Regions from separate parts of the Homo sapiens genome. Here region 2 is linked to region 1. Evidence: fine-mapped expression QTL. A gene starts in region 1. The other region holds a variant in brackets. All regions are shown on one strand. Distances are between the middles of the regions.

Region 1 (15,298 bases):
AGTAATAGTTATGTTTAACAACTGGCTAATGACATAAAAAAAAAAGCAACAAAAAAAAAACAGGATCTCTCTCTGTAGCCCAGGCTGGAGTGCAGTGGCAAAATTATGGCTGATTGCAGCCTCAACCTCCCAGGCTCACGAGATCCTCCCACCTCAGCCTCCTGAGTAGTTGGGACTAGACATACGCCACCACGCACAGCTAATTATTATTATTATTGTTATTGTTATTATTATTATTATTATTATTATTTTGGTAGAGACACAGTCTTACTATGTTGCCCAGGCTGGGTTTGAAGGCCTGGGCTCAAGCAGTCCTCTCAACTTAGCTTCCCAAAGTGCTGGGATTACATGGCACCCAGCCACAAAATTTCTAAAAATTGACTTTCATGAACCACTACAAGATGGCTTTACCACACCATGGTTTGACAGCTATAAAAAATGAAAAATAGGAATAAAATTATTGCTAAAACCTGTTTCATTCTAGCAATATTCGTTGAGGTGTTTGTTTGTTTGTTTGTTTTTGACAAAGTCTCACTCCATCACCCAGGCTGGAGTGCAGTGGCACAACCTCTGCTCACTGCAACCTTAGCCTCCTGAGTTCAAGTGATTCTTGTGCCTCAGCCTCCCAAGTAGCTGGAATTACAGGTGCACATCACCATGCCTAGCTAATTTTAGTATTTTTAGTAGAGATGGGGTTTCGCCACATTGGCCAGGCTTGTCTCAAACTCCTGACTTCAAGTGACCCGCGTGCCTCGGCCTTCCAAAGTGCTGGTATTACAGGCATGAGCGACTATACCCAATCTCATGGAGGTTTTAGTGAGCTAATTGGAGAGAAAAATTGCCACAGCCACCTAATTAAGACAGGTATTTCTAAAACAACTTTACTTTTTCTACTTAATAATTATTTATCAAAGTTTGTAGGACTGGTTTAGAGAGTGATGTGATTTGGATGTTTGTCCCCTCCAAATCTCATGTTGAAATGTGATTCCTAATGTTGGAGGTGGGGCCTGGAGGTGACTGGATCCTGGGGCAGATCCCTCATGAATAGTTTAGCATTATCCACTTGGTGATAAATGAATTCTCACTCTCAGTTCACGCTGGATCTGGTTGTTTAAGAGTCTGGGAACTCCACCTTCCCTGTCTCTTGGTCCTGATGATGCCATGTGAGATGTCTGCTACCCCATTACCTTCCGCCATGATTGGAAGTTTCCTGAGCCCCTCGCCAGAAGCAAATGCTGGAGCCATGCTTGTATAGCCTGCAGAACTGTAAGCCAATTAAACCTCTTTTCTTTATAAATTACCCAATCTCATATATTTATAGTAACGCAAACAGCCTAACACAGCAAGCATATATTTATGTCAATTGTATACTTTAAATATGTATAGCTTATTTTATGCCAGTTGTACCTTAATGAAGCTGTTTAAATTATTGCAGGACTTTTTAAAAGAGTCATCAGTAAGCCTCTGACGCATTAAAAAAAAACACATTATGATAAAATTTTGTGGTGGAACATGGAGTAGAAATTTGACTTCAAATAGAAAAAGAAATGATGCAAAATGTCTGACTCTTAGAAAAGAGCTTGTTCATGTATTTTTTAAATGGATGATTGTAGGTATCGAATTGCTAGGGCATTTAATTTAACTGGATACATTTAAAAGAGTGATGTAATTGTTTTACTTTTACGTGTATAAATTTACAATATGCCAGAAATTACAACCTTTGCAACTATTTAAACTTTTGATGAAAAATGTTAAGCTATCAACTAAAAATTATGTCAAGGAGTACCTAGTCTTAAAATAATCATTTACAGAGTACACTAGCAAAAAAACAAAAACAAAAACTGAAAACAGCTCGTTTAGAGAGTTAATGGAAGTTCTTCTATAAAACTATCTTAACCTCCTGGAATTAAGGAAATAATTTCCCCTTCCCCAAGTTCTGAGAATCTCTAAAGGGATGCAACATGTTTGAATATAATTATTTGTGGATGTATGGGTCTTTAACCTGGGCTCCATGACTGGGGGCAGAGGACACATGCATGGTCAGTACTCCTCTAGGTTATGTGTCTCTGCATACATTATTTTGGGGCAAGAAACTTCAGATTCTTTCTTTATATCCACAAAAAGAGGATGTTTGGGGGATCCTCCTTTTGGGTGATCCTGACCCCCAAAGAGTTAAAAATAATTTGTCCAAAACCTGAGATTCTTTGAGAAGTTTTATTGGGTTCTTCTTTGGCCTCCAAAAAACAAAATGCAGTAGTCAAAGGTTTGTAATACTGAATAGGAGTTCCTAATTTCCTGCATGGGGCTGAGGTACAAAAACCCAAACAACCAAACAAAACCCACAGTGTTTACAGCCAGAAGTTCTTCATTAAAATCCTGTTTCCAGGACTTGCCAACTGGAGGAAAGTTTGTGAGTCCCTTTGCTCCTCCCTACAATGGAGATAATTCCCTCTTGAACTAATTAGGAGAATGGAATAAGGTGAAGTGGTGAACACATAACATATACTCACCTATGTTGGGTCCAGCACTCTTTCTGTATATTCTAACCTGAGATTGAGTGAGTCTGAGAGATGGCATTGGTCAAACACTTTACATCCTCCCCCTAGCTTCCTTTCAAGCAAAAGGAAATGATCTAGGACATCAACAGGCAGCCCCCTCCCATGGAGCTAAAAAATGAGCTCAGACCCAGCCTATAGCAGAGGTGGTGTCCCTCCCCCTTTTCTCAGACTTCCTAGGCCGGAGTTAACCAAGGCTAGGTGCACACCTGGTACATCCAGAGACACCTTAAATGCTACCTTCTCCTGGAATCCTCCATCCTCTTCTTTTAATTCTCATTTCTTCCTGCCTTGAGGTTTCTAGGACTCTATCTGTCCCACTCTTTGGGCAGGCATCCCTTTCTCACTCATGTTAGTTTTAGGTGAAGAGCACAGTCTTCAAAGTTAAAGAGACCTAGATTGCAATCTTGGTGGTATGGAGCAAGACACTTTTTCTCTCTGTGCCTCAGTTTTCTCATGTGTCCCCCCATGTAATTTGAGGGTCATTATAGTTCTTAACATCATAAAAATGTTAAGACTACAGTGCTTAGCACAATACGGAGCATCAAAGTGTTATCTATTTTTATAATCAAGGGGGCCTCCCCATAAGAGTCTTGACTTACTCCCCTCCCCAGCAGCTCCTCACACATGGTTAATAACAGGTAACACATTACTATTTTCAGAACAGAAAAAGGATTGGGCCATAGGGCTCTCGCCCAGGATGGTGCCAACCCTTTCTGGTCTTCCTCAGTTTATGTAAATCTCTCTCCAGCTACAGATAATGACAGCTTAGAGTTTCCAGGGGCTGTGGAATGTCCAGCCACTGCCTTGCATAACCACAGAAACTAAGAACACTAGGCCCAGAAGGGTCCTCTCAAATCATTCAGTCCAACAGTACCCGCATTATAAGATAGGCAAACCGAGGCCCACACGGTGAATCAGCATCCACCACAGGCATTTTGAAGAATTCTAAAAATAACACCTCCAATTACTCTTTCCACTTGCTTTGCTTTATTTTTTTGTCGTAACATTTCCCTTACCTGCCATCACGCACTTATTCTTTTACTTGTTTATTTTCTGTTTTCTCTGCCACATGTAAGTTTCATGAGGGCAAGAACATTGTTGTGTTCACAACTGCATCCCTTGCACCTTGTCCAAGGTCTGGCAGAGGTTTACATTCAGTAAATACTTGTCGCATGGATAACTGGATGAATGCCATTTGGACATTTTCCCTTAGAGGCTCAGATGTAGCAATTCACTCACTTGGTCATTTATCCAAAAAACATCTGATGAATATCTTGTATGTGAGAAGCTTTTTGATAAATCCTGGTGAACAAGACCTGTCCGTGTTCTTAAGCAGCTCCCTGATTAGCGGACAATAGCTGCCAGCTATACAGTAGACTGAGGATCTACTATATGCCAAGCTGTGGGCTGGCAACTTTATATGCATCTTCTCTGTCTTAGCTCAGTTCTTGCAATTGCGAGGAAACATGCCTCACTCAGGACTCCTTAAGAAAAGGCTTAGGAGTTATTAGGAGGACCGGGAGGGCTAAAGGTTAAAACTGAAAGGGAAACATCAAGGACTGAGATGATGCCACAGACTGGCTGACTCATCTCTTGCTCTTTAAGCCTGCTTATTCTTTCTTTAAGAGTGTCTCTTCTTTTTCCTGGATGTGTGCCTCTCTCTCTTTTACTGACTTACTGGTTCTCTCTTCTAGTCTAAATTTTGGGAGGGGACCACAAGACTCATTGGCTTGGCCAATGGCCTTCCTTATTCCTTAAGTAAGCGCCTGCAGCCCAGACCACTTTTTGGATTACTATTTGGCCTAGAGGTTGAACATTTAGCTTCTCACATACCCTGAGCAGAGTGTATGTTTAATCAGAAGGGAGTGTTGAGCATCATCTTCACTTGGATGCTGTGAAGTAAGTAGTTTTATCTCTATTTTACAGATGAGAAAACAGGCGGAGCAAGGAGAAATGACAACAAAACCGTAACTGTAACAAAGCTGCCCTAACCCACCTGCAAATCTACAATTGAGAAATCCATTTCTGTTGCCCCTGAGATTTGTGGGGTGTTTGTTAAGTAGCAAAAGCTGACTGATACAAGATTCAAACTCAAGTTTCTTTGATTCTGTCTGCATCACCATGCTGTCTCACTGAACTTACAGCCCTGATTCCTGTTCCTGATTCCCAAGTGTCCTGTCCTAAAAGGAGCAGAGATAAATATTGTATTCATCCATTTTCTGATGTTATAACAGAATCCCACACTGTTGGTGTTCTGAGTATACTGACATTCCTTGACGCTAGATTTTATATTGTTGATTGACTTGTTTATCATCTCTCTCCTCTATGAGATTAGAGTATTTTCTCTTTATTCACTTTATTCATTTATATCCATACCACCTGGATCAGTTTCTGGCACATAATAAATGCTCAATGAATATTTATCAAGTAGATGATTGAATGAATAAATAATGATAAAAAGGAAGTGTAAAAAAACAACTTTTCATCTTAAAACAAGGCCCTGAGTCCTTTAAGGTCAGAATAAAGAATAATTTCTAGGTAGGGACAGAAAGTTTAGTACATGATGGATGGGGTCAAGAATCAAGGTAAGAAAACTTGAAGGTGTGAGGCTGGGCACAGTGTCTCATGCCTGTAACCCCAGCCCTCTGGGAGGCCATGGCATGAGGATCACGTGAGCCCAGAAGTTTGAGACCAGCCTGGGCAACATAGTGAGATTCCTTTTCTACATAAAATAAAATAAAAATAGCCAGGCCTGATGGTATGCACCTGTAGTCCCAGCTACTCAGGAGGTTGAGGTGGGAAGATTGCTTCAGCCCCGGAGTGTGAGCCTGCAGTGAGATATGATAGCGCCACTGCACTCCAGCCTGGGTGACAGAGCAAGGACCTGTCTCTAAAATAACAACAAAGGCCGGGCACAGTGGCTTACACCTGTAATCCCAACACTTTAGGAGGCTGAGGTGGGCAGATCACCTGAGGTCAGGAGTTCGAAACCAGCCTGACCAACATGGTGAAACCCCGTCTCTACTAAAAATACAAAATTAGCCGGGCATGGTGGCACATGCCTGTAAATCCTAGCTAGTCAGGAGGCTGAGGTAGGAGAATCACTTGAACCCAGGAGGCGGAGGTTGCAGTGAGCCAAGATCACACCGTTACACTCTAGACTGAGCAACAAGAGTGAAACTCCGTCTTAAAAATAAAATAAAATAAAACAACAGTACAACAATGAAAATAATACAAATAAAAATTAAAATATAGTTTCACAACTATTTACATTGTATTAGATGTTTAGAGATGACTTAAAGAATGTGGGAAGATTGCATAGACTATATGCAAATACTATACCATTTTATATAAAGGATTTGAGCTTCTCTGGGTTTTCATATCTGCCAGGAGTCCTGGAACCAACCACCCATGGATGCTGAGGGATGGCTGTACTCAGAGGTCCTTCCACCCACTGTCATGCCTGGCATCATCCACCCTGCATAGATAGAGGGTTTGCAGAAAACCCCTGATCATTAGACACAGAACACAGAAAACCAGTTTCCTGACTCCCTCTGGTGTGAAGGAAAGAACAGGGAGGTTGGGGTGGAAAGTTAGAGTGGAAAGACAGACACCCCAGATGTTTCTTAACTTTTGATTATTCCAGCTGACAAGACATGCCACACCTCAATGTGTACTGAGTGTGAGTCACTTCCTTCTCTAAGCCTCAATTTCCTTACCTGTAACATGTGGACAATGTTTATACCTACATCCCTGGGGCTGTTGCAACAATAAGATGAGGTCAGGTAGATGAAAGCTGTATGTCACTGTAATGTCCAGTGCCTTTTTTTTTTTTTGAGACAGAGTCTCACTCTGTCACCCAGGCTGGAGTGCAGTGGTACAATCTCAGCTCACTGCAACCTCTGCCTCGCAGGTTCAAGCAATTCTCCTGCCTCAGCCTCCCAAGTAGCTGGGATTACAGGCATGCACCACCACTCCTGGCTAATTTTTGTATTTTTTGTACAGACAGGGTTTCTCCATGTTGGCCAGGCTGGCCGCCAACTCCTGATTGCAGGTGGATCCACCCACCTCAGCCTCCCAAAGTGTTGGAATTACAGGCATGAACCACCTTGCCTGGCCTTCAGTGCGCTTTTTGTTACACACTGAGAAGGAATAGTGTGTGGAGTCAAACTGGCCTGGGTTGGAGTTCAGCTCTACCACTCACTGGCAGCATGGCTCTGGGTAAATGTCCCTTCTCTGAGCCTCAGGATCTGCATGTGTTCAGTGGGGCTATTAATAGTTCTCAACTCACAGGCTTGTTTTAGAAATTAAATAAGGATTAAATTATATAAGTGCCTGTCATACAGTAGATGCTCAGCAAATATTCCTCCCCAAACACAGACACAAACAGCACTTAAAGCAACCTGGGTAACAAAGGGGTTTTCGGTCTGGAGGAGAAACCAGGCAGCTAATGAGCTCTCTCTCCAGTTTTCCTTCTAAGAGAGGAACTCACTGGCCAGAGCCCAGGATGGTCACCGATGTAGAGGACAGGCAGCCAACTCCAAGCCTCCCACGTGGGGTTTCCAAAAACCTGTGAGCACAGAGTTGCATAACGTGTCCCTGAGACACGTGTTTCTACTGAAGTGTCTTCATCAAATATTCCCTGAAAGGAAACATGTGAGCAGGGCAGTAGGGCAGCCTAGCGGGGGAGGAAGGGAGAGGGGGAGGAAGGGAGAGAGGGAGGGATCTAGAGAACACGACAGTAGGGGTGAGAGGAGGAAGAGAAGGTATCACATTTAATGTGCTCTTACTATGGGCCAGCCACCGGGCTTGACTTGTCTGATACATTGTTAGATCCTTGCCATAAATCTGAGATCAGGCATTTCCGTTCCCACATTCCAGAGGAAGAAATAATAACAATCATATTAACATTGCTGAGGTTAACATAGTGCCCACTGCATATCAGGCAGTGGACTAAGCACACATTTGACCCTCAGGACAGCCCATAACATGGGTACTATTCTGAACTCCACTTTATAGAAGAGGAAACCAACTGAGACTCAGAGACATGAAGTAACTTTCCCAAGGTCACCCAGCAGGACAGCAAGACAGCCAGAGAGCCAGGATTCGAATCTAAGCAGGGCTCTCAAGCCTATGGGCCTATGGGAGAACATTTCCCAAGGGATTTATGGGGGTGGATCCAGAAGGTGACCTTAGCGATTGTCCTTACATGCATGCAGTGGGGCCCCAGTGTGAAAGTGACGAAAGAGACCAAGTGACCAGAGGCACTCCCCTCCCCTCCACCCAAAGGACAGTTTGTCCCAGCTTGTGGCTTTTCGTCACTCTGCCTCTGACCTGAAGTTTAACATTTCATTCATAAGTTTGGAACCACAGACTTGGCAGCGTAGGAAGAACCCTCGTAGACCAGCTAGCTATTCAAATCCAATCCCCTCATATTACAGATGGAAGAAAACCCTGAAGCCGGAATGTGACTCGCCAAGGTCACAGAGCAGTTTTCTGTTGGATGAAGGAGCCGGTTTAGGGTCAACTACAGATCATCTTGTGCTGTAGTTATCAAATGTGGGTGCACCTCTGAATCACTTGGGGAGCTCTCTAAATACACAGATTTCCACACTCTGCTTTGGGAGACTTGAACTGGACTTAGGTTTGCAAACAAGGACTGGAAATTTGAATATCCAGTATGTTCCTCAGGTGATTCAGATGGCACAGGGCCATGACAGCATCTGCAAGTCGGAGTCCAATGTCCCTCTTTCATTTGATAGTTTGGGATACTGGGACCCACCAGGGGACTCGCCCAAGGTCACATAGCAAGCCAGTGGGGCTCTAGTTCAGACTCTGTGGTCTGAAGCAGACTGCTTGTGGTCAAATTTGAAAATGGGCCAATGAAGCTAAACAAAGGGGTTGCCATGATTTTCCCCAGCTCTTGGTTTCCTTCTTGGATCCAAATTAAGACGGAGGATGATGTACATTTCCGAAGCTTGGCAAGGCGGGAATCCAAGAACTGAACTCCCAAAGGGGAAAGGAAAGGGCAGGAGGTTAGCTTGCACGCCCAGTGGGGTTTTCCCAGAGGTGAGCTCCGGACTCCAGGGATGACATCAGACATTCCAGCCAGCCCTAATATCAAAAGCTACCTGTGTTTTCTAGTTCAGCAGAATGGGTAGGCAGGGCCTTTCCTATTGGGAGGAGATGGGGTGGAGTGGGCCCAGCTGTGACGTGAAGGGAGCAGAGCCCAGGAAGAGCCACGCATTCCAGCATCTGCAAGGAAGACAGCTGCCCTGGGTATTGTCAACCTCTGCAGCCCTTTTCTAAGCCTTTCCTCCCATTTCTCCCTAATCCCTCACCCCAGGGCTAACTGAGCAGAGAGATTCACTGCCCCTTTTCCACTTCCTGCTACTCCACCACCTATTTTACTATCTCCCTTCCTTTATTTCCCTCTCCCTCCCTCCCTTCCTCCCTTCTTTCCTGTTCTTTTATTCTAAAATGGCATCTTGGCTGGACACAGCGGCTTATGCCTGTAATCCTAACACTTTGGGAGGCCAAGGTGGGAGGATTGCTTGAGCCCAGGGTTCAGGACCAGCCTGGACAACATAGGGATACCCTGTCTCTACAAAAAAATAAAATTAAATGAAAAATCAAAAAAGCCAAGTGCGGGCCAGGCATGGTGACTCATGCCTATAATCCCAGCACTTTGGGAGGCTGAGGCGGGCAGATCACTTGAGGTCAGGAGTCCAGACCAGCCTGGCCACAATGGTGAAATCCCATCTCTACTAAAAATACAAAAATTAGCTGGGCATGGTGGCACACACCTGTAATCCCAGCTACTCAGGAGGCTGAGGCATGAGAATCGCTCGAACCCGGGAGGCGGAGGTTGCAGTGAGCCAAGATCATGCCACTGCACCCCAGCCTGAGCGACAGAGCAAGACTCCGTTTCAAAAAAAGCCAGGTGTGGTGGCACATGCCTGTGGTCTCAGCTATTCGGGAGGCCGAGGCTTGGGCCTGGGAGTTTGAGGGTGCAGTGAGCCATGATTGCGCCACTGCAAACCAGCATGGGTGACAGATTGAGACCCTGTTTCAAAGAACCAAACTAAACCAAACCAAAACTAAACTAAAAGTCATCTTGATGTTTGGAGTCAGTTGTCCTGAATTTGAATCTCAGCTCTGCTCCCTGTGAGCTCTCTGACCTAGAGAGTCACACCACCTCCCCCCAAGCCTAGTTTCCTCCCCTATAAAAAGGGGACAATAGCTATATTTTCAGATTGTGAGAATTAAACAAGATCATGTAGGCACTTAAGAAACAGATGTTTTCTCAGAAACACTAGATCATGTGCATAATCAGTGAACTAGAGGAATTTGAATACATATTTGTTGGACTGAATTGAGGTGCCTAAAAGAATGGTTGAGCTGGAAAGCACCTAAGAAATCTTTGGGCCTTAATAACTCCCCAACTGGAGTCCAGGGGAACTGTTCAGGGTATTTCCAAATGATAAGGACAATCGCACACTCTCAATAAAGTCTCAAGTTTCTTTACTTTTGTCTGGAATTGTATCAGCTCAAGGTGATAACACGGCTACCACAAGCTGTTCAGAAATTCTGATTGGCAGTTACATGGCTCTTTGATACGTTTTTTTTTTTTTTTTTTTGAGACGGAGTCTCGCTCTGTCGCCCAGGCTGGACTGCAGTGGCGCAATCTCGGCTCACTGCAAGCTTCGCCTCCCAGGTTCACGCCATTCTCCTGTCTCAGCCTCCCGAGTAGCTGGGACTACATGCGCCTGCCACCAGGCCCGGCTAATTTTCTGTATTTTTAATAGAGATGGGGTTTCACCATGTTAGCCAGGATGGTCTTGAACTCCTGACCTTGTGATCTGCCCGCCTCAGCCTCCCAAAGTGCTGGGATTACAGGCATGAGCCACTGTGCCCAGCCTAAGTTTTTTTTTTAATGAGAAAATAATTACTGGAAGGTAGATTAAATGGTGGAAAACGTTAATCATGTCCAACTCCTCATTTCATAAACAGGGAAGCTGAGGTTTAAAGAAGGAAGTGGCTTGCTGGTCACACTGGGTGGCATAGCTGGCCCTAAAACCCAAATTCTTTTCCTGGAACAACTTACTTCCCGTCTTTCCACTTCAGAGAGGGGGAACCTAGGATCAATGAAGTTGATGGGTTTTCGTCTGCTGGAGTAGGAATAAGTGAGTTATCGATTTGCTCTTGCTTTTTCTGTTCTTAACTCATTCAGCAAATATTTACTGACTGTCCACTATTCGGATTTGGAAGATAGATAAAACAGTCATGGCAGCAGAGAGGGTCAGGATTTACTCCTATGTGCGACTTCAGAACCTGTGCCTTTTTCCACTGGACACCCACATTTTAAAACACCCACTACTCTGCCTTCTAATATAGTTCATCTGTGTCTCAGGGCAGGGGCTGTCTTATATATACATGTTCTAGCCTTCCTGCCACCGAGTAGGTGCGAAATCAATGTTGTAGTGTTGAGGAAACACTTGAATTTTATTTATTTATTTATTTATTTATTTATTTATTTAGAGACGGAGTTTTGCTCTTGTTGCCCAGGCTGGAGTGCAATGGCGTGATCTCGGCTCACTGCAACCTCTGCCTCCCGGGTTCAAGCAATTCTCCTGGCTCAGCCTCCCGAGTAGCTAGGACTACAGGCGTGCGCCACCACGCCCCGCTAATTTTGTATTTTTAGCAGAGACGGGGTTTCTCCATGTTGGTCAGGCTGGTCTCGAAACACCGACCTCAGGTAATCCGCCCACCTCAGCCTCCCAAAGTGCTGGGATTACAGGCGTGAGCCACCGCGCCCGACCAACACTTGAATTTTAATACTTACTTTGCTACTAACTGTGTCGTTGAAACAGTATGTTGCTTTCCTTCTCTGGCCCTTAGCTTAACTATCTGTACAGCGGGAACATTGGCAAACTCCTACGTGGAGGAGCTTGCAGGTCCACTTCAAGTTATCAGACTCTAACTAGGAGAAAACATTGAGAATTTAGGCTGAAAATAACGACACAGTTTATCACCTCGTTAATTCCCAAACATCATTACCGCGTCCTAAGCCACCCCACTTGCCTCTCCCCTAGCCGCCTTCCTTTAAAAAAAGAATTCCCCTCTAGAGGGCGCGCAAGCTCTGCGGCCTTCGTTCCTCTCTTCCGTTTGCCTTCACTCTTCCTTCTGCGCATGTGCTCAGTTCGCTATCCGGCTGCTTGTACCTGGTTCAGGAGGTTCAGGCAGAGGTTGCACCCACTACGCCTGCGCAACCTCAGCCCCGCCCCTCCGCTGCTTTCCCCGGAAACGTTTCTTTCCTACGCAGCCGCTCCTGCCGCCGTGGTCGCTGGAGCTTTGCCTCTCTAGGCCGGCAGCGCCTCTCCTCCATGGTCCTGTCTGTCAGCGCTGTTTTGGGAGCCCGCCGGTGAGGCCGGGCCACGCTCAGACACTTCGATCGTCGAGTCTGTCACTGGTGAGTAGACCCCAGAGGAGCTCGTGTACGGGCGGGGGCCGCGCAGGCGGAATGGGCTGGATTTCCCCTCACTCTGAGAATGGGTCTGTCTGCCCCGCCTTCCCCCTGACTCTTGGAATGGGCTCACCCCTTGGTTCCAGTCCCTCCTCCCGGGCGGGGCGACGTTGCCATGGAGACAGGCCGCTGGCTGAGGCCCGGCTCGTGTCCCTGCAGGGCATGGCGGGTCAGTTCCGCAGCTACGTGTGGGACCCGCTGCTGATCCTGTCGCAGATCGTCCTCATGCAGACCGTGTATTACGGCTCGCTGGGCCTGTGGCTGGCGCTGGTGGACGGGCTAGTGCGAAGCAGCCCCTCGCTGGACCAGATGTTCGACGCCGAGGTAGGGTCCCCGGACTGGGGCGGGTGGGGTCTCGGCCTCCCCGAGTAGGCTTTGTGGTCCATCACTACTGTGCTGTAGACGTGGCTGGGTCACCTTCTTTCTTTGTAGCCCTGGGAAAGGGATTTCACCTTTCTGAGCCTCAGCTGCCTCATCCATAAAATGGAATGACAGCAGAGGCTGATTAGTACAAAGAAAAGGGCCTGGATGTTAATACAATAAACACGTCTGTGTTCCAGGCAACTCTGATACATTTCCTTTCTGATACTCTGGGAAAGTGACTTGATTTCTCTGAGCTAGGTTCTCAGGTGCCACATCGGAGAGAGGGGTGGATAAAAGAGCATTCGTGCGGGTACAGTGGAAACTGCCTGGACTTTGGGGTCAGACAGGCGTCCGTTTAAGATCCACTTACTAGCTGTGTGACCTGGGGCAAATGTCACCTCTGTGAACTTGTTTTCCTGTCTTCAAAACCATGAGACTAGTTGCAGAGAGGTCGTGGACTGCAATATAAAGAGCATGTGCTTTGGGTTCAGAAAAGCAAGGGTTCAGTCTAGGCCTAAACATATAAAACTAGCTGTGGGACCTTGGGCAAGTTGCTTCCCCTTTCTGAGCCTTTTCTGAAAAGTGGGCCGGATGCTCCTACCATGTTGCCCTCAACAAAATGTTACAAGGCCCAGAGGGGTTTAGGAATAAGAAGGTACTTTGTAAAGTGTAAAGGAGGCCTATAAGTTGTTACATCTAAGAGGCAGCTGTGGCGTGGTGATGAGCACAGTTCTTTTTTTTTTTTTTTTTTTTTTTTGAGACGGAGTCTCCCTCTGTCGCCCAGGCTGGAGTGCAGTGGCAGGATCTCGGCTCACTGCAAGCTCCGCCTCCCGGGTTCACGCCATTCTCCTGCCTCAGCCTCCCAAGTAGCTGGGACTACAGGCGCCCGCCACTACGCCCGGCTAATTTTTTGTATTTTTAGTAGAGACGGGGTTTCACCGTTTTAGCCGGGATGGTCTCGATCTCCTGACCTCGTGATCCGCCTGCCTCGGCCTCCCAAAGTGCTGGGATTACAGGCGTGAGCCACCGCGCCCGGCCGAGCACAGTTCTTAAAGCCAGGAGACCTGGGATGGAGTCCTTGCTCCTGCTGCTTGTTCTCTGTGTTAGCCCTTGGGCAAGTTATTATCCAAAAAGTGATAAGAATTAAAAGAAGAAGAATGGCTTTGTGAGGTTTTTTTAGGGATAATATGAGATTATGTATGTCAAAGACCTTTCTTTGTCAGCTGAAAGTGTGGTGCAGATGTTTGGCATTTGATAGTATTGTGTTGGATAGTGGAGGTTGCACACCCACCATATGCCTAGTTGTAGTCTCGTAGGAGACTCTATGCTCCTGGGAAGAGCTGTGGGAATGCCAGGCTTTGTTGAAGAGCCATATGATGCACACAACCTGAGTTCTAGCCTAGGGATCAGCAAACCTTTCCTTTAAGGGTGAAGTAGTAAGGATTTTAGGTCACAATTATTCAGCTCTGCCATTGTAGCACAGAAGGCTGCTATAGACAAATATATAAGTGAATAGGTGTGGCTGTGTTTCAATAAAACCTTATGTACAGGAGCAGATGCCAGGCCTATGGAGCCATAGTCAGCTGAACGCTGTTCTAGACTTTACTCTTGTTGTTTATTACTTTGGGCAACTTAACTTGTCTGAGTTTTTACGTCCTCCTTTGTAAAATGAGAATAATCCCTTTCCACCTGCTGTGAGAAACAAATGAAATCCCATAATGGATGTCTATGAAAGCACCTATTGGAAATAGGCTGCCGTACAGATGTAGGGAGGTATTATCTTCTGTGCTCTGGGAAGAATGCTTGTTCCTTAGGAGGCTTGCTGAGATCCTGGGGCTCTGCCAAGTCACTTCTCCAGTATATTTCCATTTGTGATTCCCCCTCAGATCCTGGGCTTTTCCACCCCTCCAGGCCGGCTCTCCATGATGTCCTTCATCCTCAACGCCCTCACCTGGTGAGTATCACCAGTTTTGCTATCCAGCTTTTGGGCTCTTAGTGCTGGGACTAACTTCCTAAGTTTGAACATGAGACAGGCTGGCACTTGTTTCTGGGGAGTGGTGGAGTAAAGTGGGTGACAGAGGCCAGTTCTGGGACCAGCTGTATAATGGGCCTCCTTCCATTGCTGTTTTGACTTACCTGGAAAGCTCTTATGTCACTATGTTTGTGCTGCCTGCAAGACAACTTCCATCTCAGATAACTTCCCTGATGTGGAGTGAGCTGAGAAAGGATTCGACCGAGAGGCAGGAGAACTGGGTTCTGTTCTTGGTTTGTGTGCCATTGGCCAAGTTACTTGCCATGGGCCTCAGGCTCCTCTTTTGTCCATGAGGGTTTGGACTCAGTGATGTCTAAGGTCACACGTAATCATTGCCTGTCTCTTAAGAGGCAGTTTAGCATAGTGGTCAAGGTGTCAGGCTCTGGAGGCAGACTCATTTGGCATTGAACCTCAGCTTTACTACTAGTCTAGTGACTTTGGACAAGTTAATCTACCACAGTTGCCTCATCAGTAAAATGGGGCTAGTAATATTACCTACCTCATAGTTGTAAGGATTAAATAAGTTAATTCACAAGAAGGACTTAGAACAGTGCCTTGCATGTTATTATTATTCTTGTCCTTACACCGGAGGTTGAAAACTGGTGGGCTGACTTTGACCTAAATTTGTCTTCCAGATAGGTTCTATTTGGCTTACATAGATGTCAGCCCACACATGGTGTTTAAAACATTTTTTTCACTTAGTTGAAAATCAGGCTATTTTATATAAAAATCCAGATTTCTGGCTTCTCTTGAATAATGGAATGACTGACTGATTCCAGGCCAACCTTCTAGCATGATAAGATTTGCCTAGATGCAAGT
Region 2 (15,298 bases), 120 kb before region 1:
AAATTAGCTGGGCGTGGTGGTGTGCACCTGTAATCCCAGCTACTCGAGAAGCTGGGACAGGAGAATCGCTTGAACCCAGGAGGCGGAGGTTGCAGTGAGCCAAGATTGTGCCATTGCACTCCAGCCTGAGCGACAGGATGAGACTGTTTCAAAGAAAAAAGAATTTATTTTTGTCTTTGTCATTGATATTTCCATTATAAATTGTCTAGGTGTGGATCTCTTACAGTTTTTTCTTAGTGTTCATTGAGATTTTTATACATGGAGATTTGTGTTTTAAAGCAAAATCAAATGTTTTTAGCCATTACATCTTCAAATATCTGTCTGCCTCTTTCTTTCTCTCTCCTTTCTTCTGGGATTTCCATTATGCACATGTTTTTCCATTAGATTGTATTACACAGGTCTCTTTCTTTATCGTTCCTCAGAGTGTATAATCTCAATTGACCTATAATTATAGTAGTTGTTCCTCTCTTCTGTCTATTCCTATCTGCTGGTAAGACCCTCTTGTGACTTTCTGTATCAGCGATTTTACTTTACAACCTCATCATTCATCATGAATTTTTTTTATGATGTGAAACTGATTTTTATACTTTCTGTTAATCTTTTTGCCCATGATTTCCTTTAGTTCTTTGAGTATAATAACTGATATCTTTGTCCACTAGGCCATTGTCTGGGATTCCTAAAGGATCATTTCTATTTATTGTTTCCCCTCTTTTCTGTGTATGGGCAGTATTTCATGTTTCTTTAAACATCTCATAATTTTTAAATAAAATTGTACTTTCTACGTAATATAATTTGGCAGCTTTGGAAATCAGAATCTATCTTTAGCATTTGTTTGTGTGGTTTTTATTGCTGAATACTTGCTTAGTAACATTCCTGGACTAATTTTGTAAAGTCTGTGTTATGCATCGTGTACAGCCACTAAATTCCCTGTTTCGTTTGCTTACTAGTCAGATAATGAATGGACACCAATGATCTTAAGTCCTGTAAGCCATAAGTTGGCCTTTTGACTTTATCAACTAGTGAAGTTTTGACACAGTCATGAAGACATTAAGACATGAATTAAATGAGAAAAATTTTTCACGAATTAAACTTAAAGCCTGTGGTGCACAAGGAACTAGATTTTTCATAAATCTAGAAATTATCTTGCTAATAGATCAATATCTGGCTCTTACTTTCTGTCTGTGTGTGTTTCAATGTTAATGTAGTAAAAGTAAACACTTCAAATGCACCCTTATCTGAACATGGCTGTGAGGAGTCGGTTTCAAATGTTCTGGATACACAGTGGGAAGAGGGAAATTGGTCAGTCCTGATGCAGTCCCTGGGAAAAACAATGCCCTCCTATTACCTAAAAATTCGACAGTATAAAGTAAGAATTAGGAAGAGCCAGGACAGTTCTGCAACACCCCGAAAAAAGGAAAATCCATGGGGGCTCTGAAAAATTACACCCCAGAAGTTGTTTCACGTGGTTGCTTCCTGGAAGTGAAAGAAAACAGCTGGTGCTTCCGGGTCAAGTTGAGGCACCTCTGATCTCCAGCCCCCGGAGCCACAGCACCACCTGCTGGTGGGGCCCCGCTAGAGCTGACATAGACAGGTCCAGCCTCCAGGTGCGCCCAATCCCTTTTCTTGCATTATGAAGCTAAGCAGCCTCTCTCAACTCACTGTGACCGTCCCCCTTTGCCTCCTCCACATGGCCCAGCCTGGAGCCCTGAAAAGTGGCGGGTAGGGCGTGGCGACGCGTACTGTGGCTGGAGTTGGGGAGCATTTCCTCTGAGGAGTCCATGCGACGACCTGGCCCTCATGCCTGGAAGTCACTTGGTGTCCCCGACTCACCCTGTGGCATTTTTCTCCAGCTGCACAGAAACCTGAATGTTGCCCAGAGTTTTCTGTTGCCTGCCCTTTCATCCTGTTACCCATGTGCTGGCAGGATAAAATTTGCAAAGGGGTTAAATGGTGTTGCTACTACGAACGTCGGCATTAGTGTATGGAGTCCTGCTGGACTTTGGATTGAGGTTAGGAGCCCCAGATCTGCTGCCCGTGAAACCTTCCTGCAGAAGCATTGTCTTAGAAGGAGTTGAGAACTTCATGTTCCCCTAGAAAATCGTTGTGATCAGAGGTTTTAAATTGGGTCGACCCATAGATCTGCCTCTGGACAATGAAGCAAGACCTCCTTGCTTAGATTATGCACCTTCCATTTCACACAACGGACTTCACCCTTCTCCTCTCTGTAAAGAGGATATTTCAGCAAGATTCATTAAGATCCTCAACAGTTACCGGGTTTTTATTATTTTTTATTCCTATTTTCTACAGCTTATAATAATGAAACACTTTCCTCTTCATATTTACATTGTGAGTGTTTATATAATTTCACACTTCCTTAGGATGGCTTGCCTAGAATCCCTGATCCCCGTCCTTGATTCCTGGATAGCACATGCCAGTGTTCTTTGGAGAATACATAAGAGGATCCAGACAATGGCGTCCTATTGCCTCAAAATCTGCTGGATGAAGTAAAAATGATGAAGAGTTCTGTAACACCCTGAAAGGAGGCAGTCCATGAGGGCTCTCAGAAGTTACATCCCAGTTGTTTCACGTTGTCTCTTCCTGGAGGTGAAAGGAAACAGATGGTGCTTCCGGGTTAAGCGGAGGCACCTCTGACCTCCAGCCCCGGGAGTCAAAACGCCATCTGTTGATGGGGCCCCGCCAAAGCTGACATAGACAGGTCCAGCCTCCAGGTGCCCCCACACCGTTTTCTTGCATTATGAAGCTGAGCGGCTTCTTTCTACTCTCTGTGAACATCCTCCTTTGCCTCTGAATGACCCAGCCTGGAGTCTTGAGGAGTGCAGGTAGGGCCTGGCGACCCTGGGTGTGGCTGGGGTTGGGAACGTTTCCTCTGAGGAGTCCATGGGGTGACCTGGCCTGGAAATCACACATTGGTGCCCACTCATCCTACGGCTTTTTTTTTTTTTTTTGGAGTCTCGTTCTGTCACCCAGGCTGGAGTGCAGTGACGAGATCTCGGCTCACTGCATCCTCCGCCTCCTGGATTTAAGCGATTCTCCTGCCTCAGCCTCCTGACCTATGGCGTTTTTTCCAGCTGCACGGAAACCGGGATATTGCCCAGAGTTTGATCTTGACTGCCCTTTCACTCTCTTACCTATGCGCTGGCGTGATAAGAGTTGCAGGGGGTCAAGAAGTGTTGCTACTACAACTGTCGGCATCAGTGTATGGAGCCCTGGTGGACTTTGGATTGAGGTGAGGAGCCCCAGATCTGCTGTTCTCCTTGCTGCCCCTAACTCCTTCCCTCAGAAGCATTTGTCTTAGAGAGAACTGAGAACTTCCCATGCGTTTAGCAACCGTTGTGAGCAGGGCTTTTAAATTGGGTCAGTCCACGCATTTGCCTCTCTAAAGTGAAGGAGGAGGCTCAACAGACCTCTTTGCTCAGATATGCACCTTCCACTTCACATAATGGGCATCACTCTTCTCCTCTCTATAACTCTCTATAATGTCGACATTTCAACAAGATTATCTCTAAGGTACTCAATAGTTACTGGATTTTATTATTTATTTTCAAATCCTTTTACTTACAGTTTACAATCATGAAACATTTTCCTCTTTACATTTACATCGTGAGGTAAGTTTATAATTTCACAATTCCTTAGGATGGCTTGCCTAGAGTCCCTGATCCCCAGTCCCTGACTCTTTGGCAGCACCTGCCAGTGTTCTTGTGAGGAGAATACCTAACAGGAATCACGCCTCAATGCCCCCGGGACACAAAACCATGTGCCCTGTACATTTTGCATCTTCCTATATCTCTGGTTTCCTGTTCTCTCCCAAGATGGAAAGCCCTTCTTAACCAGGACTGAGGAGACACAAGTGCTACAGGCTCAGTCTGGGATAACTGGTCTCCATGTTGTCCATGATCGCTCAGGCCCAGAACTTCCTTTTAGCAAGAGTTAAATGCTTCTTACTATGATAACAAGACGAAGAAATAAAGCGTTGTATATTTAAAACTCTTTGAAAATCTAAGTCTGCTGGATTGATCTCTTGCTCTCCCTCTCTACTCAGCCATGTTGCATAATCCCTTAGGAACTGTAAAATGGACAGAGTTACTGTTTCACATTTAGTTTCATCAATTCCTGCACTTGTGTTTTTCTGATATATTTGTCTCTTTCAATATCTCCTGACACTCAGATTCTCTGTTGGTCAGATTCCAGGTGCATTTTGGAGTTAAATTCTCTGGGTTTGCATCCTATGAATGGCATGCCGATTAATCCTGTAATGGAAGAGCAAGGCATTTTTGCTTCAGTTTTTCTGGTACTACTGCTGGTGGCCTTTCCAAGTGTTGAAGTAATATGATCTGCGATTGGATTTGGAACTTAGGGTCAGAAACTGAGCAAGATGTACTTTAGTTCTAGGTACTTTCATTCCTAAAAATTGAGCCACCCTAAATTAGGAGAACAAAATCCTTGTGGTTCAGCCTACATCCCTTGAGTCTTTGCTTGAGGGTTGGGCCCTAGGTCTACCTAATAATGAAGTGTAATTAGCCATGAATTTTCCAAATTTATAACTCTGTGCTTCATTCTTCCTTAACTCCCACAAATGTTGCAGAGGTCTGGGAAAGTAATTTTCCAAAATTTTATTTATCTCTGACAAGTATCTTAACAATTTTGAAAAACTACTTTTTCCCAAGCATGTTTTAAACTGACATCTAATAATTTTATCATCATTGCATAGTTTCAAGAGATAAAAATTTAGGTATATGATAAATGTTGTCATTTAAATCAAATGGGTATCTTACTCTATGAGGTTTCTAATAGAATCTAACTACAATGTTCATTTGTTAGTAACATCTATTAGGGAAGAAAAAAAACATGTCCTTTTTCCTCATCATCTCTCTATCTTTCACATCAGAGAGGAGCTACCCTCTCTGCAAGAGCTTCGAAGAGAGAAGCTACCCTTTCTGCGAGAGCTTCAAAGACCAGCAGACATCCGAACACCCTGCCTGCAGAGAGGAGCCACCCTCTCCAGGGCCCCCTCTCTGTTGAGAGCTGAATACTCAAGGGATGATCTGCCTACAGAGAGTAACAACCCACTACAGGTCTCCTCTGAGCTCTTCTAACACTAAATAAAGCTCTTCTTCATCGTCTTCACCCTTCACTTGTCTGTGTACCTTATTCTTTCTGGATGCAGAACAGGAACTCAGGCAAAGGTGCCACCAGCCACAGAGGTTTCTGGAAAGAAAATGAACACCCCAAAGATCATGTAACACTTCTACTAATTTGGGTTTGGCTTGTTCTTGCTTTTCTAGTTTTTTGAGATGCATTGTTAGGTTACTTATTTGATATCTTTCCAGTTTTTTTATGTAGGGGCTTATTGCTATTAACTTGCCTCTTAATACTATTTTTGCCATGCTCCATAAGTTTCGTTTTTTTGTATTTCTACTTTTGATTGTTTCAAGGAATTTTTAATTTTATTCTTAATTTCTTTTTTCATCCACTGGTCATTCAGGAGCATGTCGTTTAATTTCCATATATTTTGTATAGTTTTGAATGTTCCTGTTGTTATTGATGTCTAGTTTTATTTCCTTGTGGTCATATAAGATACTTGATATGATTTTGATTTTTTAAAATTTTTTGAGACTTCTTTTGTATTTTAGCACTTGGTCAATCCTGGAGAATGTTTCATGTGCAGATACAACAAAAGTGCATTCCATAGCTGCTGGGTAAAATGTTTTGCAAATGTCTGTTAAGTTCATTTGATCTATAGTACAGTTTAAACTTGATGCTTCTGGGTTAATTTTCCATCTTGATTATCTTTCCAATACTGAGAGTAGGGTGTTAAAATCCCCACGTATTATTGCGTTAGAGTCTATCTCTCCCTTCAGCTCTAATAATGTTCACCTTATATATCCAGATGCTCCAGTGTTGGGTGCATATATATTTATAATTATTATGTTCTCTTGCTGAATTAGTCCCTTTACTATTACATAATGTTCTTATTTGTCCCTTTTTCCAGATTTTGACTTGAAGTCTATTTTGTCTGATATTAGTATAGCTACTCCTTCTTGCTTTTGGTTTCTGTTTGCATGGAATATCTTTTCCATACCTTCAATTCAACCCCATATATGTCTTTACAGGTGATGTGAGTTCTCGTGGGCAGGACACAGTTGAGTTTAGGTGTTTTACCCATTCAGCCAGTCTACATATTTTAAATGGTGAATTTAATCCATTTATATTCGGGGCTGTTGTTGAAAGGTGAGGGCTTAAACCTCTTATTTTATTGATTGTTTTCTGATTGTTTCATATATCTTTTGTTCCTTACTTCCTATCTTATTGTAAGTTTTGGGCTGGGTTGTTTTCTGTGGTGACAATTCTTGATTCTTTTCTCTTCCTCCTTTGTGTATCGGCTCTGCCAGTGAGTTTTAGAGTTTCTTAAACTTTCATGATGGTGGCAGTTGTCTTCTCACTTCCAGACATGACTCTCTTGAAAATATTTTGTAAAGCCAGTCTAGTGGTGATGAATCCCCTTAGCTATTGCTTATCTATGAAGAATTTTATTTCTCTTTCATTTCTGAAAGATAATTTTGCTGGGTATTCTTGTCCACTAGTTTTTTTTTTCTTTTAGTAATTTGAATATATTATTCCATTCTCTTCTGGACTATAAGG[T/A]TTTTGCTAAGAAATCCTCTGTTAGTCTGATGAGGATTTCATTATATGTGACATGATGCTTTTCTCTTCTTGTTTTAAGAATTCTTTCTTTGTCTGTGACTTTTGACAATTTGACAATAGCGTGCCTCAGAAAGGACCTGTTTGGGTTGAACCTAAATGGGGTGTTTTGAGCTTCCTGGACCTGTATGTCCATCTCACTGCCAATACTTGGGAAGTTTTCAGCTATTTTTAACATGTTATTTATACATTTTCCATTCTCTTTTCTTCTGGAATGCCCGTAATGTGAATACTTGTTCACTTAATTTTGAACAAATGGTGTCCCCAGAATCCTGTAGGCTTTCTTCATTTATTTTTATTCTTTTTTATCTTTTTGTCTGCTGATATTATTTCAAGTATCCTGTCCTCTAGTGTAGAAATTATTTCTACTCTGTTGTTAAAGTTCACAGTTGTATTTTTTTATTTTATTCATTGAATTCTTCAACTCTAGAATTTTTGTTTGGTACATGGCTGCGTGGCCAGCCTGGGAGTGTTCCTGCCAGGGGTAGCCCATGAGGCTGTTTCTCAGGCCCAGGATGTGGTCACACAGCTGCTTGGCTGACCCGGGTGTATGTCGGCTGGGGGCAACCTGAAAGACTGCTTCTCTGTCCTGGAATGCAAGCACAAGGCTGTCCAGCTGGACTTGGGGGTCTGTCTGCTGGAGGTGGCCCCAGAGGGCTGCTTCTTAGGTCTAGGATGCAGGGCACACAGCTGATTGACCCTCCTGGGGGCATGTCTGCCAGGGGTTGACCACAGGGCTGCTTCTCAAGCCTGGATTACAGGTGCAAGGCTGCTTGGCTGGACTCAGTGCATGTCTGCTGGGGCTTTCTGTTTCTCAGCCCCAGGATGTGAATTAATGGCTGCTCAGCCCACCTGAAGGCTTCCCCTGGTGAGGAAGCCTGTGGTGTTGTTTCTCAGTCCCAGGGCATGGCTGCACAGCTGCTCATGCAGCCTAGGGCATGTCTGCCAGGGGCAGCCCACAGGTCTGTATCTCAGGCCCTGATTGTGGGTGCAGGGCCATTGGGTAGGCCAGGGGCTTGTTTGAGTGGGTGGGGCACCATGGAAATGTTTCTAATCCCTAGACATGGATGTGTACCTGCTTCTCAGGCCTTGGAATGTGTCAACTTCTCAGAGGCCTGAGCACCACTTTCACTCAGAGGAGGGTGTGCAGCAGTTTGACTGGTTCAAGGGCAGGTTTACCCTGTGCGGGACTGTCATGCCATTCCTCCAGGCGGAAGTGAGGGCAGCGGGGGTTGTTTGTTCTACAGGACCAGAGTCACAGCCAGTCCTGTATCCACACTTGATGCTGCTGGGATTATGGCATTCAGCCACTGGTGTGGGCCTGGTGGAATGAAGACCAAGCCCTGTTGAGGGAAAAGTGCAGTGGCTACTGGGCTCCACAGGAGGGCGCACTCCACAGGTGGCTCTGGTCTCAAGATGGCACCTGCTGCAGCATCTTGGCTGACAGTGGGTAGGTGGACTATGAGGAGTGCACCCCTTGTGCTTTCAGTTCAAAGCAATGCACCTGCATGAATTCCTAGCAGCGTTTCAAACGGCTCAGGGCTTGTGTGTGAGTACTGCAGGATTCTCCGTAGTAAGGATTTTAGGTGTTTGTGGTGGTAGTGGAGACTAGTGCGGTTCTTTTGCTTACCTTTTCCCCACAATAGGATGTCCTCCTGACTCCAGATAGATCGGATCCAGGTGTGGAAGACAGGGCGGCAGATGCTGGATGCATCCATGCTGCCCTGCTAGACTTCCAATCCCCACAGGTGCATCTCCACTCCCCTGCTATATTCGAATACTCTTCCTTGGACTCTCTAATCGAGTTTCATCAGTTTATTCATTGCTTTGGTACTTTCTTGTGGGGAGAATGAGTGCCTGTCTTCTATAGTCAGTCGTCTTGGTGACATCACTGAGCTAAATTTCTTTATACTGCATATCCCATCCTGAATTATTGGAGTCTTTTTTAAAATAATTTTTATTCTTAACCTTCATACTAAAGATATGATTTGCATACCACCATTATAGTATTAGAGCATTCTGAATTTATGTAATTACTTCTACTACTAATGAGTTCTATACTTTTAATTTTTTTATTGTTACACATGAGTACTCTTTCTTTCATCTTTTCTTTAGCTTTTCTTGTAAGAGAGGGTTCCCCATCCGCCCCCCACCCCCACTCAGCCCACATAGCAGGAGGTGAGCAGAGAGTGAGTGAGCGTTACCACCTGAGCTCTGCCTCCTGTCAGATCAGGGGTGGCATTAGTTTCTCATAGGAGCAGGAACCTTATTGTGAACTGTGCATGCAAGGGATCTAGGTTGCATGCTCCCTATGGCCCCCACTGCCCCGCCCCACCACCCCCTCCCTCCCCACCCCTATCCATGGAAAAATTGTCTTCCACGAAATCAGTCCCTGGTGCCAAAAGGTTTAGGATCACTGTTGTAAGATATGCCTGTTAGTGATGAAGTTCTTCAGCTTTTGATTGTCTAGGAAAGTATTTCTCCTTCATTTCTGAAAGACAACTTTTCTGGGTACAGTATCCACGGATAACAGTTTTTTTTTTCTTCATCACTTTGAATATCTCATGCCACTCTCCTTCTGGCCTTTAAGGTTCCTGTTGAGAAGTTTGTATGTAGGTATATTGGAACTCCCTTATATGTTATTTGCTTCTTTTCTCTTGCTGCTTTCAGGATCCTTTCTTTGTCTTTGATCTTTTATAGTTTGACTATTATATGTATGTCTGGTATTTTTTGGACTGAATCTGATTGGTGACCTTTGACCTTTCTGTACCTTGATATATCAGGGGGTTTGCTAGGGCCTGTTGCAATACATTTCTCTGGTATTTCTGAGAGATTGTTAGTCCCTAATCTACTGGTGCCATCAATTCCACAAATCCACAGCAGCCCAACCCGTCACTTGGTTCAAGGACTGTGCTCCTCCTACAGTATCCATTAAGATCTTAAGATCTTGTACCAGCGATTGATGTGGCAACTCTCTACCATTTCAGTAAGCATGACTGGGTAAAACAATCTGTGAATAGACATACCAGAGGATGGTCTAAAAGAGTTTTGGGGGTTGGGAAGTCTTAAAATGGAAGCTCTGCTGCCTATACTGTCTTCTTCCCCTCTCCTAAGAAAGTTTCCAGGGAAGGATAAACCTCTAGGAGAAGAAGCCAGAATGGGAGAATAGAAAACCTTTGGACTGGGGATAGGAGATCTGGATTTTAGTTCCAGCTCTGCCATAAGAACCTGTGCATCTTCAATTAAATCTGTTTTCTCTCCAAGCTTAAGTTCCTCATCTGCACATAGAAAATTTGGTGTAGTAATTCTGATCATGCGTGCTAGCCCAACATTCTGGGAGTTCATTTAAAAAGAAGAAAGAAGGAAAGATAAAATAAAGAAAGGAGAGAAAGGAAGGAAGAAAGAAAGAAGAAAGAAAAAAGGAAGAAAGAAGGAAGAAAGGAAGAAGGAAGGAAACAAAGAAGAAAGGAAGAGAGGAGGAAGGAAGGAAAGAGTGAGAGAGAAAGAAAGAAGAAGGAAGGAAGGAAGGATCTTCTCTATCAGATCTAAATTTTGCCTGTAGGTGTGTGGTAACAGACATCATCACAGTGGCATGAGAACCTGTCTCCACTGCACTGTTCCCTAGAGCACGGATGCCCTGTGCTCAGCCACCTGCCTTATTTTTCCAGCCCAGCAATTGAAGAGGAGAGACCATGGTGGGCTTAGGGGCCTTAGCATCAGGGAAGCTATAATTCCCTGCTAGAGTCTGGTGACAAGATTCTCACTTTTATGTGTGGCCAGAGATACATTCAACAGTGTTCTTGACACACTGGTAATGGTATGGAGTCAGGAAGGGTATCTAAATTGATATGCCAACAAGCAAAAGAGCCAGAGCCATAAATGCTCTGGGAGAATACACTCAAGAATATGCTGGTTATTAGCAGGCGAACAATTAAAATTTTGGATCTCCTAGCAAAGTTAACAGTTCTATACATAAATGTACAATTAGCATGAACCTTGGTTTTCACCACTTACATAGTCTTGAGCAGCAAGGTCTCTGATGCTGAACTTCTGCATCTTTTTCTTTTCTTTTCTTTTTTCTTTTTTCTCACTCTGTCACCCAGGCTGGAGTGCAGTGGTGTGATCTTGGCTCACTGCAGCATTGACCTGATTTTCCCACCTCAGCCCCCTGAGTAGCTGGGATTACAGGTGCACGCCACCATGGCCAGCTAATTTTTTGTATTTTTAGTAGAGATGGGGTTTCACTATGCTGCCCAGGATGGTCTTGAACTCCTGAACTCAAGCAATCTGCCTGTCTCGGCCTCCCAGAGTGCTGGGATTACAGGCATGAGCCCCCACGCCTGGCCAGACCTCCTGCGTCTTAATGTGGGAATAATAATAACCATGTCATATAGATTTTCAGAGGTATTGAGTGAGATTATCTCAGCCCCAGTGCTCAATAAAAAGTTCCAGCATGACAACAAATTTGGTAATAATAATAATAAAACAATCTTTTATTATATCTTAATATTGAGGTAAAATATATACAAAGAAAAGCACAGATCTAATGTATTTATTTGAATGAGATTTGGCAAATACATATGTGTAGTTACACAAAATCATATGGAGATATAGAACATTCTCATCAACCTTGAAAGTTGTCTATGACGCATTCAAATTTAATTCCAACCCTTCAGGGGCAATCATTATGCTGACATCTACCAATTTAAGACTTGCCTGTTTTTTCTCATTTAAGAAGCATTTATTGTTATAAATGCACTCAGGCACTGTAAGACATAACATAAATGAAATAATTTTCAGATAAAAGCAACTGCTTATTATTTTATCCTGCCTTTATATTATTTTTATAAACTGCCTTCAGAAGGTATCATTCATTACCATACCAGTTGGGTGGTCTGTAATATATTCCCACAAGGTTTGTCTTCCCTTTATTTCTTCTTTTGTTCTTACAAACATGTATTCTACAGTGTTGCTGCTTCTAAGTTCATTGATTTTCTCTTATGTATTATTTTGATATGCAATGCTTTTTTTTTTTTTGAGATGGAATCTCCCTCATTGTGTCACCCAGGCTGAAGCGCCTGCAACCTCCACCTCCCAGGCTCAAGTGATTCTTCTGCCTCAGCCCCCAATTAGGTGAGATTACAGGTGTGTGCCACCATATCCAGCTACTTTTTGTATTTTTAGTAGAGATGGGGTTTCACCATGTTGGCCAGGCTGGTCTCGAACCCCTGACCTCAAGTGATTCGCCCATCTTAGCCTCCCAAAGTGCTGGTACTACAGGCATGAGCCACCATGCCCACTCTTGATATACAATGCTTCTTAACCCCCTTCCTAATAAGATCATTTCTTTTTAACAATGTATATAATATTCTGGACTGAAGTTCAATCCCACAAATTATCAGTGATGATAACAATTTATAATTACCATTCTTGGTTAAAATCTCAACTTAACATGAGCATTGGCACAAATTCTATAAACAAGCCACTTTTAAAAGCCCCAATAAAGTTGACTATATAATTAAAGTGACCTAGTTCAAATAGAAACAAGTGACAGTAGAAGTGAATTAATATTATATGTGCTACATGGTAGTGTAGTTATGATACTCATAATTTTGTATTGCCATTGTAGATATTTTCTTCTAGTGCTTTCAAGTTACCAACAGATATTTATATTCAAGATTTAAGAAAAATATTTCAGAATTCCCAGGAATTCTTTAAATTAAAGTTGTTCTTAAAGTTTATCCAACATTCTTCACACTGCTTACTCATTATAGACATGGTTTGATGGTTAAGAAACATTGAGTTTATCACATTTACAAAGAACTGTAGGTTGTGAATATTCATACTCTCAGAAATATGCTAGTTATTAGCAGGTGAACAATTAAAATTTCGGATCTCCTTAGCAAAGTTAACAGTTCTATACAGAACTGTAAACCAAAATTGCCAATTTCAGAACTTATTTGCTTCCAAACTTGTTATTTCCTGAAACACCACTCATAGGATTTATATATATATTCACTTGTACGTCTATTAAAATTAATTTTATTTGCAAGAATGACTCACTATTAGTAGCATACAGAATGATAAGCATATACTCCTAATGTGGCAACAGGTACAAGCAACATGATTAGATGGTGACTGCTTTTTCCTTAGTGCTCCTGATTCATTCTCTGAACACATTGACCTTAATTTTTGGCTCTACATGTCAGCATTTTCTGGTCTTTGCTTTAGACTTCTAACCAGCAATGTTACTATTTTGAATCCCAAGGTTTAATTCTTACAAAAGAATGTAAAGACTATAATACTTTTTTTTTTTTTTTGCCAGGCACAGTGGCTCACGCCTGTAATTCCAGAACTTTGGGAGGCTGAAGAGGGTGGATCACCCTGAGATCAGGAGTTCAAGACTAGCCTGACCAACATAGTGAAACCCTGTCTCTACTAAAAATACAAAAATTAGCTGGGCATGGTGGAGGGCACCCGTAATCCCAGCTACTCGGGAGGCCGAGGCAAGAGAATCACTTGAACCTGGGAGGTGGAGGTTGCAGTGAGCTGGGATTGCATCATTGCACTCCAGCCTGGGTGACAAGTGTGAAACTCCATCTCAAGAAAAAAAATAAAAATAAACAAAAACACTGGCCAAGCTCTCAATGTTAAGTAGAAATGGTGAAGACAGACATCCTTGCCTTCTCCTAACCTTAAGGAGAAAACATCCAATATTTTACCATTAGAGATGATGTTTATCAGCGGCATACCAAGGATTGTGGCAGTGGGAGTGGTTCATCTGAGGAGGAGGGAGTGTTTATCTCTGACTCTGTTTAAAATTGCCAGCACATAGTGATAATATACAGTACAGCTTTTTAAGCCACTTTTATTATTATTCTTAAATTCTCTACAATTGGGGGACCTATTTATTGCTTACAACTGGGGTGAACTCCTTCCAATAACCTCCTTCCACTTCAGTACACCACTAAGATATGCTTTAAGTTGAATATAGTGCCCTTTATCATATTGAGAGGGAGAGCTTCTCTTCCTTGCAGGTGGAGAAGTTTTATAATAAATGGGTTTTGGATTTGTCAAATACTTTCTCTGTTGAGATGATCATATAGTGAATTACACTGACTAATTTTAATACAAAACATATCCTGAATGTGTGTCTCATTTGACCTTAATGTATAATCTATTTAACATATTTTTGGACTGAGTTTATGACTACTTGGTTAGAGATTTTTATGCCTATGTCTATGAAGGATGTTAGACTGTAAGTAAACTTTTTTATAATGTTCTTCCCAGGTTTTAGTATCACAGTTATCTTAGGCTCATAAAAGAAGTTGGGAAGTGTTTTCTCTGCTTCTCTTGTCTTAAAACATTTTTGTAGAATGTATAATTTGTAGATGTTTAATAGCATTTACCTGTGAAGCCACCTGGACCAGCAGTGTACTTTTTGGAAAGGTTTTTCATTAAAAATTTGATTGCTTTAACATAGGAGTCAACAAACTTCAGCAAAGAGCCAGGAAATGAATATTGTAAGTTTTATATGCCTTAAGATCTTTATTGCAACTCCTTGTCTGTACCACTATAGGACAAAGGCAGTCAAAGATCATTCTTACCAATGGATGTGGTTGTATGCCAACAAACTTCACTTACAGAATCAGAAGTGGTAATCTAGTCTCCCAGTCCAGGAATCAAAGCAAGTGTGTTTAACTTATATTTGTTTAGTTATTCAGTTAATTATTTGTGCTACTTTCTTATTGAGATACAATTTACAAACCATGACATGCACCTTTTAAGGTGTACAATATAGTGGTTTTCAGTATTTTGATAAGCTTGTGCAACCCTCACCACTTGTTAATTCCGGAACAACTTCATTACTCCCATGAAGAACCCCTATACCTGATGGCACTCAATCCTTCCTCCTACCTTTACTTCTCCCTTGGCAACCACTAACCTGCTTTTTATGAATTGACTTATTCTGGACACTTTATATTAATTAAAGTATATAATATGTGGCTCATTGCATCTGACTTCTTTCATGCAGAATTATGTTTTCAAAGCTCATCCATGTTGTAGGGTGGGATCTTTTTTTTTTTTTTACTTTTTATGTATGAATAATATTTCACTGAATGGATACATCACATTTTGTTTATCCATTTATCCATTGGTGAACATTTGGATGTTTCTAGTTTGTATGTACTATTATTAATCCTACTATGAACATTTATGTGCAAATTTTGTGTTAAAATGTTTTCAATTACCTTGAGTATAATTCTTAAAGTGGAACTGATGAGTCACATGATAACTCTATGTTTAACTCTTCAAGGAACTGCCAGACTGTTTTCCACAGAGGATGTACCATTTTATGTTCCCACCAGCAATGTATGAATGTTCCAGATTCTCCACATCCTCACTAACACTTGTTATTTTAGGTTTTTTTTTTTTAAGATTATAGCTATCATAGTACATGTGAAGTGGCTTCTCGTTGTGGTTCTGATTTGCATTTTCCTGAGGTCTAATGATATCACCCATCATTTTACATGCTTATTGGCCATTTGTACATTTTCTTTTGGAGAAATGTCTGTTAAAA

The links.
Region 2: its variant is fine-mapped to the expression of SYS1 in monocytes after triphosphate RNA (Kim-Hellmuth 2017, PIP 0.95).

Annotation. Positions count from the first base shown.
Region 1 is chr20:45,351,286-45,366,583 of GRCh38, forward strand. SYS1 (SYS1 golgi trafficking protein) reads left to right here and starts at 11,871. Exons shown (of 4, transcript NM_033542.4): 1 at 11,871-12,030; 2 at 12,244-12,408; 3 at 14,334-14,401. The coding sequence starts at 12,247. It overlaps SYS1-DBNDD2 (SYS1-DBNDD2 readthrough (NMD candidate)), which reads left to right and starts at 11,884. Exons shown (of 6, transcript NR_003189.2): 1 at 11,884-12,030; 2 at 12,244-12,408; 3 at 14,334-14,401. LOC124904914 (a long non-coding RNA gene) reads right to left here and starts at 12,083. Exons shown (of 2, transcript XR_007067609.1): 1 at 11,783-12,083; 2 at 11,071-11,541. RefSeq lists an enhancer at 11,601-12,040.
Region 2 is chr20:45,228,187-45,243,484 of GRCh38, forward strand. It overlaps LOC105372630 (a long non-coding RNA gene), which reads left to right and starts at 2,651. Exons shown (of 3, transcript XR_936763.3): 1 at 2,651-2,840; 2 at 3,090-3,247. It overlaps LOC124904913 (a long non-coding RNA gene), which reads right to left. Exons shown (of 2, transcript XR_007067605.1): 2 at 11,182-15,298. The variant T/A (reference allele first, on the strand shown) is at 6,661.